Linked DNA regions of Homo sapiens: region 1 is linked to region 2. Evidence: fine-mapped expression QTL. A gene starts in region 2. The other region holds a variant in brackets. All regions are shown on one strand. Distances are between the middles of the regions. Region 1 overlaps CRYBG2 (crystallin beta-gamma domain containing 2). Region 2 holds the start of ZNF593 (zinc finger protein 593).

What was found. PIP is the estimated chance that this variant, and not a neighbour inherited with it, causes the effect. A credible set is the group of variants that fine-mapping cannot tell apart.
Region 1: its variant is the best candidate, but not a certain one, in a credible set for the expression of ZNF593 in whole blood (INTERVAL, PIP 0.77).

Annotation. Positions count from the first base shown.
Region 1 is chr1:26,333,851-26,339,216 of GRCh38, forward strand. It overlaps CRYBG2 (crystallin beta-gamma domain containing 2), which reads right to left. Exons shown (of 20, transcript NM_001039775.4): 7 at 4,501-4,627; 8 at 4,162-4,197; 9 at 3,688-3,824; 10 at 3,403-3,529; 11 at 2,991-3,130; 12 at 2,756-2,882; 13 at 2,488-2,520; 14 at 2,245-2,357. Among named protein-coding and RNA genes, the nearest start is that of CRYBG2, 18 kb to the right of the region's middle. RefSeq lists a silencer at 2,538-2,917 and an enhancer at 3,058-3,117. The variant C/T (reference allele first, on the strand shown) is at 3,021.
Region 2 is chr1:26,167,652-26,173,017 of GRCh38, forward strand. ZNF593 (zinc finger protein 593) reads left to right here and starts at 2,257. Exons shown (of 3, transcript NM_015871.5): 1 at 2,257-2,532; 2 at 2,767-2,829; 3 at 2,924-3,222. The coding sequence starts at 2,333. The coding sequence ends at 3,065. C1orf232 (chromosome 1 open reading frame 230) reads right to left here and starts at 1,312. Exons shown (of 4, transcript NM_001364669.2): 1 at 765-1,312. The coding sequence starts at 848. It overlaps ZNF593OS (ZNF593 opposite strand), which reads right to left and starts at 4,181. Exons shown (of 4, transcript NM_001395468.1): 1 at 4,119-4,181; 2 at 3,966-4,038; 3 at 3,505-3,684; 4 at 1,870-2,947. The coding sequence starts at 4,010. The coding sequence ends at 3,538. RefSeq lists a silencer at 638-793 and an enhancer at 2,027-2,126.

The DNA of each region.
Region 1 (5,366 bases), 170 kb after region 2:
CTCTGTTGCCCAGGCTGGAGTGCAGTAGTGTGATCATAGTTTACTGCAGCCTCCAACTCCTGGGCTCAAACAATCCTCCCATCTCAGCCTCCTGAGTAGGTAGTACTATAGGTGCATGACACCACATCCACCTAATTAAAAATTTTTTTGTCAAGACAGGGTCTCCTTATGTTGCCCAGGTGATTCTTGAACTCCTGGACTCCTGCCTCAGCCTCCCAAAGTGCTGGGATTACAGGCATGAGCCACTGTGCCCAGCTTCATGGTAATTATTCATAGGAAAACAGAACTAGGGCCAGGTGCAGTGGCTCACACCTGTAATCCCAACACTTTGGGAGACCAAGAAGGGAGGATTGCTTGAGCCCAGAAGTTTGAAACCAGCCTAAGTAACAAAGTGAGACCCCCATCTCTACAAAAAAGTTAAAAAATTAGCCGGGCGCGGTGGCGTGCACCTATGGTCCCAGGTCTCAGGAGGCTGAAGTAGGAGAATCCCTTGAGCCCAGGAGGTCAAGGCTGCACTGAGCTGTGTTCACACCACTGCACTCCAGCCTGAATAAGAAAGTGAGACCCTGTCTCAAACAAAAACAAAAACAAATCCAGAAATAGATAAAAATGAAAAATATTCCTTAAAACTGAAAATAAATTAAATTAATGAACCTAATTGTATATTAGGTTGGTGACATAACCACACACACAAAAGTATTATTTCAAATGTGTTTAAGACACGGTAATTTGAACGAATATATAACAAATAGGTTATAGGTGAATATCTTGAGGACAAAAAGAACCACAAGAAGCCAGGCACGGTGGCTCATGCCTGTAATCCCAGCACTTTGGGAGGCCGAGGGGGGCGGATCATGAGGTCAAGAGTTTGAGACCAGCCTGACCAACATCATGAAACCCCATCTCTACTAAAAATACAAAAATTAGCTGGGCGTGGTGGCGGGTGCCTGTAATCCCAGCTACTCAGGCGGCTGAAGCAGGAGAATTGCTTGAACCGGGAGGCAGAGGCTGCAGTGAGCTGAGACAGTGCCACTGCACTCCAGTCTGGGCGACAGAGCGAGACTCCATCTCAAAAAAACAAACAAACAAAACAAACAAACAAACAAACAAAAAACAGGAAACTCCCAACAGCATTCAGTGGTTTTTACTATTAGTTGTAATAAGGGCATTATAACTTTGAAACACCTAGCATGCAGATTTTGGTCTCTACCATTTGCCACTAAAAAGAACCAGGGTTCCTTGGCAAATAGCCAATTCTAGATTTGGAGCAAAAAAAAAAAAAAATGTACAAAATGATCCTGGAGCATCTTATTATATCAAGAAAGTTATCAAAACTACTGGGGTCGCCGGGCGCAGTGGCTCACGCCTGTAATCCCAGCACTTTGGGAGGCCGAGGTGGGCGGATCACCTGATGTTGGGAATTCAACACCAGCCTAATCCACATGGAGAAACCCCATCTCTACTAAAAATACAAAATTAGCCGGGCTTGGTGGCCCATGCCTATAATCCCAGCTACTTGGGAAGGCTGAGGCAGGAGAATCGCTTGAACCTGGGAGGCGGAGGTTGCGGTGAGCTGAGATCGCGCCACTGCACTCCAGCCTGGGCAACAGAGCAAAACTCTGTCTCAAAACAAAACAAAACAATACAAAAAAAACTACTGGGGTCGGCCAGGCACGGTGGCTCATGCCTGTAATCCCAGCACTTTGGAAGGCCGAGGTGGCGGATAGCTTGAGCCCAGGAGTTTGAGATCAGCCTGGCCAACATGAGGAAACCTGGCCCAAGGACCTTATTTGGATGCTGAGAAAAACAAGTTAATTTCACAAAGGCATTTTTGAGACAATGGGAGAAATCTGAACACGGACTGGGTATTGGGTAATATGAATAAATTGTTATTAATTTTATTAGATGTGATAATGACTTGTAGCTACGTGGGGAAAATGTTCTTTCATATTAGAGACACACGTTGAAGTGTGTACCCATGAAATTTTACGTTGGGTCAGGGATTTAAAATACTCCACCGAAAATTTAAAAGAGCACACGGATAGAGGAAACAAGATTTATCTTTATATTATACAATCTACAGTTTTACATTTTCCATTAAAACCTTATTTTGTTTTAAAATTGCGCAAGACAGAACAGTTCATCGCAAGGTAGCCAAAGGAAGGAAATCATTTGAAAGACTCTCCTCCTGCAGCCCCGCCTCTGCCCCAGCGCCCCCAGCCCTCCGCCCCTCCACGTTCTCACCTGCCGCCGTGGACCCGGCAGGACTGAGGTCGGAAGGAGGCGGGCAGAGCGGCCTGGTCATCTTCGAAAGAGAAGTGGTCGCCCAGAAAGTCGGGGCGGGAGAAAAGCTGAATCTGGAGGCAGAGAGGGGAGATGAGGGGAAGGAGGACGATGGAGTGGGGCCGAGAACAGCGGGGAGGGGAAAGGTCCGAAATGAGGGGAGAGACGTGAGCCCAGCGGCTCCCTGCGGAGTCCCTGCCTTACCTTTGAGACGAAGTGCAGATCGTGCTCCCCGACCTGAAGGTAGGGACCGAATCGAGAATTAGGGAGGGTGCCGGCCCCTAGCCTTGTCTTCTCTAGGTTTCAGTACCGTCCACCCCGCGGCCGCGCCCTCGGCCCCGCCCCCTTCTAAGGCCCCGCCCCAAGCGCCCAGGCAGGTCCTCCAGCCCGCTACCTCTGCGTGGGGGCGGGGCGCACCCGAACTCCAGGTCCCGCCACCGGGGAGGCCCCGCCCCCCGCGGCCGGCACGCACCTGTAGGACCGGCTGCAGCGAGGCGAGGGTGCTGTTGCCAGCGCCCCAGTCCTCGCAGTTACGATACACGCCCTTCTCCAGCACGTACTGTTCCCCGGAGAAGCCCACCTCCTGGTAGGCCACCCACCTGCAGGAAGGGCGGGGCGCGAGTCAGCTGGGACGGAGCCTGCACCTCTCCTGGAACCGCCCCCGGCTCGCCCGGGCCCGCCCCGCTCCCGGAGCCCGGGTCACTTACACGCCGCTGAGCACGTGGATGGCCTGTGTG[C/T]TGGGGCCGTGTTGCACCAGCTCCACATCCGGCAATGCCTTGCTCACCTCCACGCCGTGCCCCTCGAAGTCCATGGCCTCAAATAGCACGACGGCCGGGTCCCCGAAGTCCTGGGTCCCCAGGGACAGTCAGGTCTCTCCCGCCCACAAACCGAAACCCCTGGGAGTGCCCAGACCCCAGGGTCACAGCCCACCCGGGGAATTAGGGGTGAGGCTGTCAGTACGACCTGGAGAAGAGCAGCAGGGGAAGAGAGGCTAGACCTCTGGGAACACTTACAGGGAGAACACGGAGAGGGGGTACAAATTCTTCCCTCCACAAACTGTACTGGGGGAGGTCTGGCTGTGGCCAGAGGCAGAGGGATGGGCCAATTGCCTTTGCTTACCGTCCGGATGACCCGGAGGGAGGTCAGCAACTCGTCATAGCCTCCCCAGTGTGACCAGTCTGGGTATTCCCCCTCCTCCAGCAGATACTGGTGGCCCCGGAAGCCCTCCTTCTCGTAGCCCACCCAGCTGGGAAAAGCAGGAGGACAGACAGGCAGGTTCAGTCATAGGAGGCCCATGGATGAATGAGACAGCTGTCCCCACCCCTACGCAGCCCAGGTCACTCCCCACTCCCAAGGGTAAAGGCCAGAGGTGATGAAATAGAAGGAAGGGTCCTGAGTTCTCACCAGCCTCCGAGAACTCTCAGGGACCCCACAGAGGCCAGGTGGGGGCTCTGGCTGTCCTCTGGCTGCTGAAGGTTGTAGATGTCTCGGCTCACTTCCCAGCTGCGGCCCTGAAAGCCTGGGGCCTCATACACCACAGCCTGGGGGAAAGGGGCTGTCAGGAGTCATCTGGACCCAAACACACCCAGCCAGCTCAGGAATGGCTCTGCCCAGCATCAGGCCAATGTGGCACCCCCCAGCCCTCCCACCTCCTTGCTGAACTCCATCCCCTTACCCAATTCCTATCTCTACTCTGACCTCTGACCTTCTTACACATCAAAAGCCAGTTCCCAGTGAGCCCATCAGGTCCCATCCCCCCAGACCGTGCTTCTGGCCCCCAGTGCCCTCCTCTCTGGATTTCCTGTCCAGACCACGATAACCAAACACCTGCACCCCGCCACCAAAGGCCCTCTTTGGCTCTTAAGCCCAGACTCTTACCCTGGGCTCCCCTGGCTTCTCCACACTTGGGCAGCCCTGCAGAGGAGACAGAGCTGAGACACCAGCCCAGAGATGGGAAAGACAGATGGGGCTGCGGATCTAGGATTTTCCTGATCCTGAGAACCCCAACCCCATGTCTTCCCTTTTCCCCTACCTCTTAGGTTAATCCCTACCTCTCCTCCCACTCCCATTCCCAATAGAAGCTCCCAGGAAGCAGTCTCCAAGGGGTGCTGTTTTACACTTCATCCCCCATCCCTTCCCACAGACTGCAGGACCAGCTACTTGGGACCAGGGGCAGAGCCTAGACCTCCTGGCCTGTGGGTGTGCCCTGTTCTTTACCAATCTCATGGGCTTCAGGGAGCCCACGCTGGGGTCCGATGTGCCCCAGGCCTCTGAGGTGGGGTACTCTCCAGGTTCCAGGATGTAGGGAGTGTCTTCGAATAATGGTTTGGGGTACAGTAGCCACCTAGGGGAAACAGAGAGGCTGCTGCACCCTAGCAGAGAGACTTCAAGGGACACAGATTGGTGGGCGGGAGGGAAGGTTTAGAGTGGAAAAGGAGGTTTTCTGGGGAGGTTCCCATCAGTCTCGTATAATCTCTTGCAGTAGCCACATTGGTCTCCCTTCCTCTGGCTTTGCCTTCTCTAATTTCACACAGCAGCTGGAGCATTTTTCTCTAGCATGCATGGAAAACTGCTTCAATAACCCCAGTAGTTCCCTGTTAGCCTCACAATAAAGCCCGGCTATGCAAAGAGGCTCTGCAATCTGGCCTCTTCCTTCTCCCTGGGCCTCAGTTCTTCCCACTTGTTGCTTATGCTGGCTACACTGAAAATTTGAAGCTTAGCTGTCTCCTCTCTGGGCCTTTGCATGTGCTATTCCCTCTGCCAGATATACTCTTTTCCCCATTTATTCAATTGACAAATATTTAGAAGCATCTGCTCTGTGCCAGACCCTGCTACAGGCATCAGGGATACAGTGGTGAACAAGCATACACAATCTCTGCCCTCATGGAGCTTAGATTCTTGGCCAACTCATCCCAGCATGGTGTCTCCTCCTCCAGGAGGGTTTCTCTGACTTCCACACTCTGCCTCTCATGGTATGGTGTTTTTCTGTGCTCCCTCACCCCAAAACACTGAATTGCTATTGTCTGCTTACTTGCCTGTCCCCACCAGTGGACTGAGCACTCCTGAAGGCAGGAACTGTGTTC
Region 2 (5,366 bases):
TGCTCTGTCGCCCAGGCTGGAGTGCAATGGCTCAATCTCAGCTCATTGCAACCTCTGCCTCCCAGGCTCAAGCAATTCTCCTACCTCAGCCTCCCAAGTGGCTGGGATTACAGGTGCACGCCGCCATGCCTGGCTACTTTTTTTTGTATTTTAATAGAGACTGGGTTTCACCGTGTTGCCCAGGCTGGTCTTGAACTCCTGAGCTCAGGCAATCCACCCACCTCGGCCTCCCAAAGTGCTAGGATTACAGGCATGAGCCACCGTGCCCGGCCCAGCCTGTTTTTTGTTGTTGTTGTTTGTTTGCTTGTTTTTTGTAATGTCAGAACAAAGCATGGTCTAAGTATGGCTTTGATCTGATGCTGCTGCAGTGACCTTTCTAGTACAGGCGCCACTCCCCCTACCTCTAGTAACATGGGGCTCACTACATCACTCCTACTTCTGCTCCCATTAGAAAGTTGTGTCCAGCTAAGTGTGCCCGTGTGCCTACTGCCCACTGGTCCTAGAAGAATCTCTTCCATGTGGCAGCCTCGAGATCTTTGGAGACAGTGGCCACTCCTCCCATGGTCCCTAAGTCTTTTCTTCCTCAGTTTTCTTGAATGTCCTGGCTTTCTGATGCTGCACCATGGTTTTTACCATCCCTGAATGTGGCATCTGCACAAATGTGGCCCCCCCACCTCCAAGCCTATCCTGTGCCCCACTTCATACTGCTCATTCCTGCTGCCCCTCTGCACATGCTCCACCCACCATGCATGGATGGCACCCACCTCCTCTGCCAGGTCTTCTTCAGATTCCCCACTCAGGGTCTGTAGCACTTTGGACTTGTAGGTTTTCCAGAAGGCCTGGTTCATGGCTGCAGGGGGAAGGGGCCTGGCACGCAAGCACAGGAAGGTGGTGGCTCAGTGGATACCAGTGAGTCTGGCTCTAGGAACTTGGTGAGGCCAAGAGCCTGTCCGAGGGATCCAGTGACTTCATTAAAGATGCACCAGCCTCCCCAGCTGGCACAGTGCCCAGGAGGTGAACCTGATCCAAAGGAGTCGGGGAGTGGGGGATGGAACAAGCTTCTGCCACCTTAGCCCCTTGTCTTGACCCATATTGGCCAAGAATAATGAAGTCATTTGTCTCTAGAGAGGCTTTCTTCCTGGGCCTAGGAGTACTTGAGTTGTTCATCTCTTAGCATGCCTCCAGGAAAATCTTCTTCCATTCACAAAATCCTGAGGTCTGGGACCCACACTGGAGCCCCTGTGACTGTAGTCATACTAGTTGTGTCCTCAGCAGGGCTCCACCCTGTGTCCCTACTTAGCCTCAATGAACTGGAGCAGGAAGGTCCGCAGGCCCCCAGTGGGCACCTTGGGCTTACATTTCACTCCTTTGTCTGGGCTGGAAACTGATTCCTCTCCCCAGGGATACACGTGCCTGTCTCCTTGTTTCCTGGCAACAGACTCCAAAGAGCTGGAGCCCCTGAATTATTGCTAAGCTCCTCTGGCCCCTTCCAGCTGAGTTGGCTCTGGCCAGCCTGGGAGGCACCAGGCTCCTGTGAATGGGGAAAGGCCCTCTAGCCACTCTGAGCATGCAACACCTAGGCCTTTGCTGCCAGCCCACCTCTGGGAGCCCAGGGCTTAGAGAAAGGAGGCAAAGATGGAGAGGTCCTTCTATGAGTACTTGTGAGAGGAACTGATCCCTCTGGAGTCTGGATGCCTGAGGACTGCACTCTCTGGGGAGGAACACCCTTCACGGATTTGGTTGGGGTCAGAGAGAGGATGGAGACTCAAGGGAATAACGGGAGCCCGGAGAAGTGAGGGCTTTTTCAGGGACTGGAGATTATCTCGGGAAGCCCTGGTGGGGCTGGGATTCCAAACTTATTCACTCTCAGTCATTTACTAATTTATTCATGACACAGACATTTATCAGTGCTTTCCAGAGATAAAGCATCCCACCCCCACCGCGGAGTCCAAGGTCTGGGAAACAGGAAGGGATGACAGGAGTACAGGTTGGCACTGATACTGGTTGGACCAGGCCAGGAAGAGCAGGGCAGCAAGACGGCCCCGAAACCCCCAGGCGCACGCACCACCCCGCGCCTCCCCAGCGAGGGCCCGCGGGGCCATGCCCTTCAGTGGGCACACTTCTGGGAGCCCGTCCTGAGCTCGGTCACTGACGTCGACGGCCGCCTGGCGGCGCTCGAGCCGCTGGCCGAGAGTGACGTCATCAGAGGCGGTCCGGCCGAGCCTGCCTAGCCCCCCGGCGTGGCCTGACGTAGCTGATCGGCCCGGAAGTGCTCACACGTGTGCTCCCTGCCCTGCTCCTGGCCCCTTGGCCGGCCGGGCTGTTTCTGGCCATGGGTCGCTCCCGCCGGACAGGCGCGCACCGAGCGCACTCTCTAGCCCGGCAGATGAAGGCGAAGCGGCGGCGGCCGGACTTGGATGAGATTCACCGCGAGCTGCGGCCTCAGGGATCCGCACGACCCCAGCCCGACCCAAACGCCGAGTTCGACCCCGACCTGCCAGGGGGCGGTCTGCACCGCTGTCTGGCCTGCGCGTGAGTCCCGGACGAGCCCGGCCTGGGGCGGAGGAGGGTCCGCGGTACCGGCCGGGAGATGTGAAGTTGAAGCCCCAGGCAGCGCAGAGTCTTCTCTCTTGGGACCCGTGGGTCCGCCCGCCTCCCGTTTCTCAGACCCGGATCCTGGCGTCAGGGACAAGCTAGGGCTAGGGAGATAGGTGCACTTGGGAGACTATCACCTCCTCACTCTCCTTCTCACTTCCATTCCTACAGGAGGTACTTCATCGATTCCACCAACCTGAAGACCCACTTCCGATCCAAAGACCACAAGAAAAGGTATGAAGGAGTAAGGAGAGGATTGATGGATGGGTGCTCAGCAGATAGGGCTCTCACCTGGTCAGCTCCCAACTCCTGTTTTTCTTTCTCCCAGGCTGAAGCAGCTGAGCGTCGAGCCCTACAGTCAGGAAGAGGCGGAGAGGGCAGCGGGTATGGGATCCTATGTGCCCCCCAGGCGGCTGGCAGTGCCCACGGAAGTGTCCACTGAGGTCCCTGAGATGGATACCTCTACCTGACATGGCCTGAAGATGCAGGGCAGAGGAATTGCCCATGGACAGTGACGCAAGGACTAGGCTGGGAGGGAGCGTGCCAACCCCTTTTGCCTCTGGGTTTGGGGAGCGGAGGGCCTCTTCTTGGTGCCCTGCCCCAAATAAAGGAACTGGACAAAGAGAACTTGCCTCCAACTCTAACTTCCAGGCCGCTGTCTCAAACTCCTGCCCTGGAAGGGCTTCTCTACTACTTTCTGTACACCAGGCCTAGGGTGTCTACTCCCCACTTGGTCTATCTCTGCCTTCCCTCTGAGGTCCTAGCATCTGAACTGGAGCACCCAGATGGAGGCCTGATGCAGTGTGGGGTGGCGGGAGTGGGATCAGATTACTCTGTCCTGCTTCTGACAGAGACTGATCCCCAGAAAAGAAGGCTTCTGAGATTGCACCCCCCTCCCGAGTCACCTACCCCCAGCATCCAAGTGAGAGTCTCTCTTCTTCGTTACGGGGCCCGTGGCACCCGCCGCTGCCCCACCATCTTCCAGACGGCATAGCAGGAGCCACCCAGGCCGAGGACAGCTAGCACTGTAGCCACAACTCCTGCCAGCAGACTCCGGGGCTCTGCCTTCAGCTCACCAGCTACCTGCATCTGGAGGTGCACAGAGGGTGTGCCTCAGGGGTCAGTTGAGACTGCCAGGAAGGTGGGGAGTGGGAAAGGGCTGAGTAGATGTAGCTAGGGGAAGGAGACATGGACGCCGGTCCTGCCCCAGGGAGATTCCACCCCAATCCCTTTCGCCTCACTGCCCATCTGGGCCTGCCTGCTCAGGCGGCAGGGAACGTGACAGCCTGGCTGTTGGGGGTGTCAACCCAGCTATGGTAGGGGGAGGAAGGGGTCAGTCGTGCCAGAAACCGTTGATCAGGGGTACTTACCTGTAACACCCGGAAGTAACCAGGGGTCAAGCGTCGAAATCGCATGGTGGGCGGCACTGGTCTCCCTGGCGGCCTGTAGGGTGGGAGCGGACGTGAAGACCAGTGGTCTTCATGACACCAAGAAGTGGAAACTAGGGTAGAGGGGTCTCTGACCTTCCACATACGCAAGACCCAAGCTCTCAGAGGATGCTCACCCGCGCCTGCCTGCCCAGGTCTGGCAGGGGGCGGAGCAACTGGACCTTTAAATCTGGTCCCTTCCCCCACTGCCTACCATCCTGCCAGCCTTAGAAGCAGCTGTCAAAAGAGATCAGCATCAGGCTTGAGCGGCACCTCCCCCACTCTCCGAGGAGGCGGGTCCGGTTAGGCAGGAGAGGCCTTGGCTGGCAGTGCTCAGGAGTCCCAGGCCTGGACCAGGTACTGGGCGGGCCTCCCTCAGCCCTGGTCCAGGCCCCATCGCTACCTTAGATGATTGGATGCCACCAATCAGCATTATCGAAGGAAGGATGTGTTATTAGCTCCCACAACAGTATGCCTTTTCCATTTGATTTCTGTGAAATCAACCGCCCCTACCTCAAGGGAGGGCACATATAACCCTTTTTTTTTTTTTTTTTAAGACAGAAGTCTCACTCTGTCACCCAGGCTTGAGTGCAGTGGCATGATCTCGTCTCACTGCCACCCAGGTTCAAGCGATTCTCCAGCCTCAGCCTCCTGAGTAGCTGAAATTACAGGCACCTGCCACCGCGCCCAGCTAATTTTTGTATTTGTAGTAGAGACGGGGTTTCACCATATTGGTCAGGCTGGTCTTGAACTCCTGACCTCATGATCCCCCCGCCTTGGCGTCCCAAAGTGTTGGGATTACAGGTGTGAGCCACTGCGCCCGGCCAATTTAACCCATTTTTTCAAGACAAAGTTTCTTCAGGGACTTCCCTGCCCTCAGCTTGAAACAATAATAAAAGCATATCTGCATATACCAATTAAGGAAGCTGCCCGTGATACGTTAAAAATAGTAGTCATTGTTCTAAGCACTTAACTTGTATTATTTCATTTGCTATCGATTATCTCTTAAATGAAAAAGTATGGCTGGGCAGCACTTTGGGAGGCTGAGGCAGGCAGATGGCTTGAGCCCAGGAGTTCAAGACCAGCCTGGGCAACGTGGTGAAACCTCATCTCTACCAAAAAAAAAAAAAAAAATTTAGCCAGGCATGGTGGTGCATGCCTGTAGTCCCAGCTACTCAGGAGGCTGAGGTGGGAGGATCACTTGAGCCCAGGAGGTGGAGGCTGCAATGAGCTGAGGTTGCACCATTGCACTCCAGCATGGGTGACAGAGCCAGACCCTGTCTCCAATAAAAATAAAAAAGAAAAAGTACAATTTGCAGAATAGTATGTAGACTATCTGCAGAT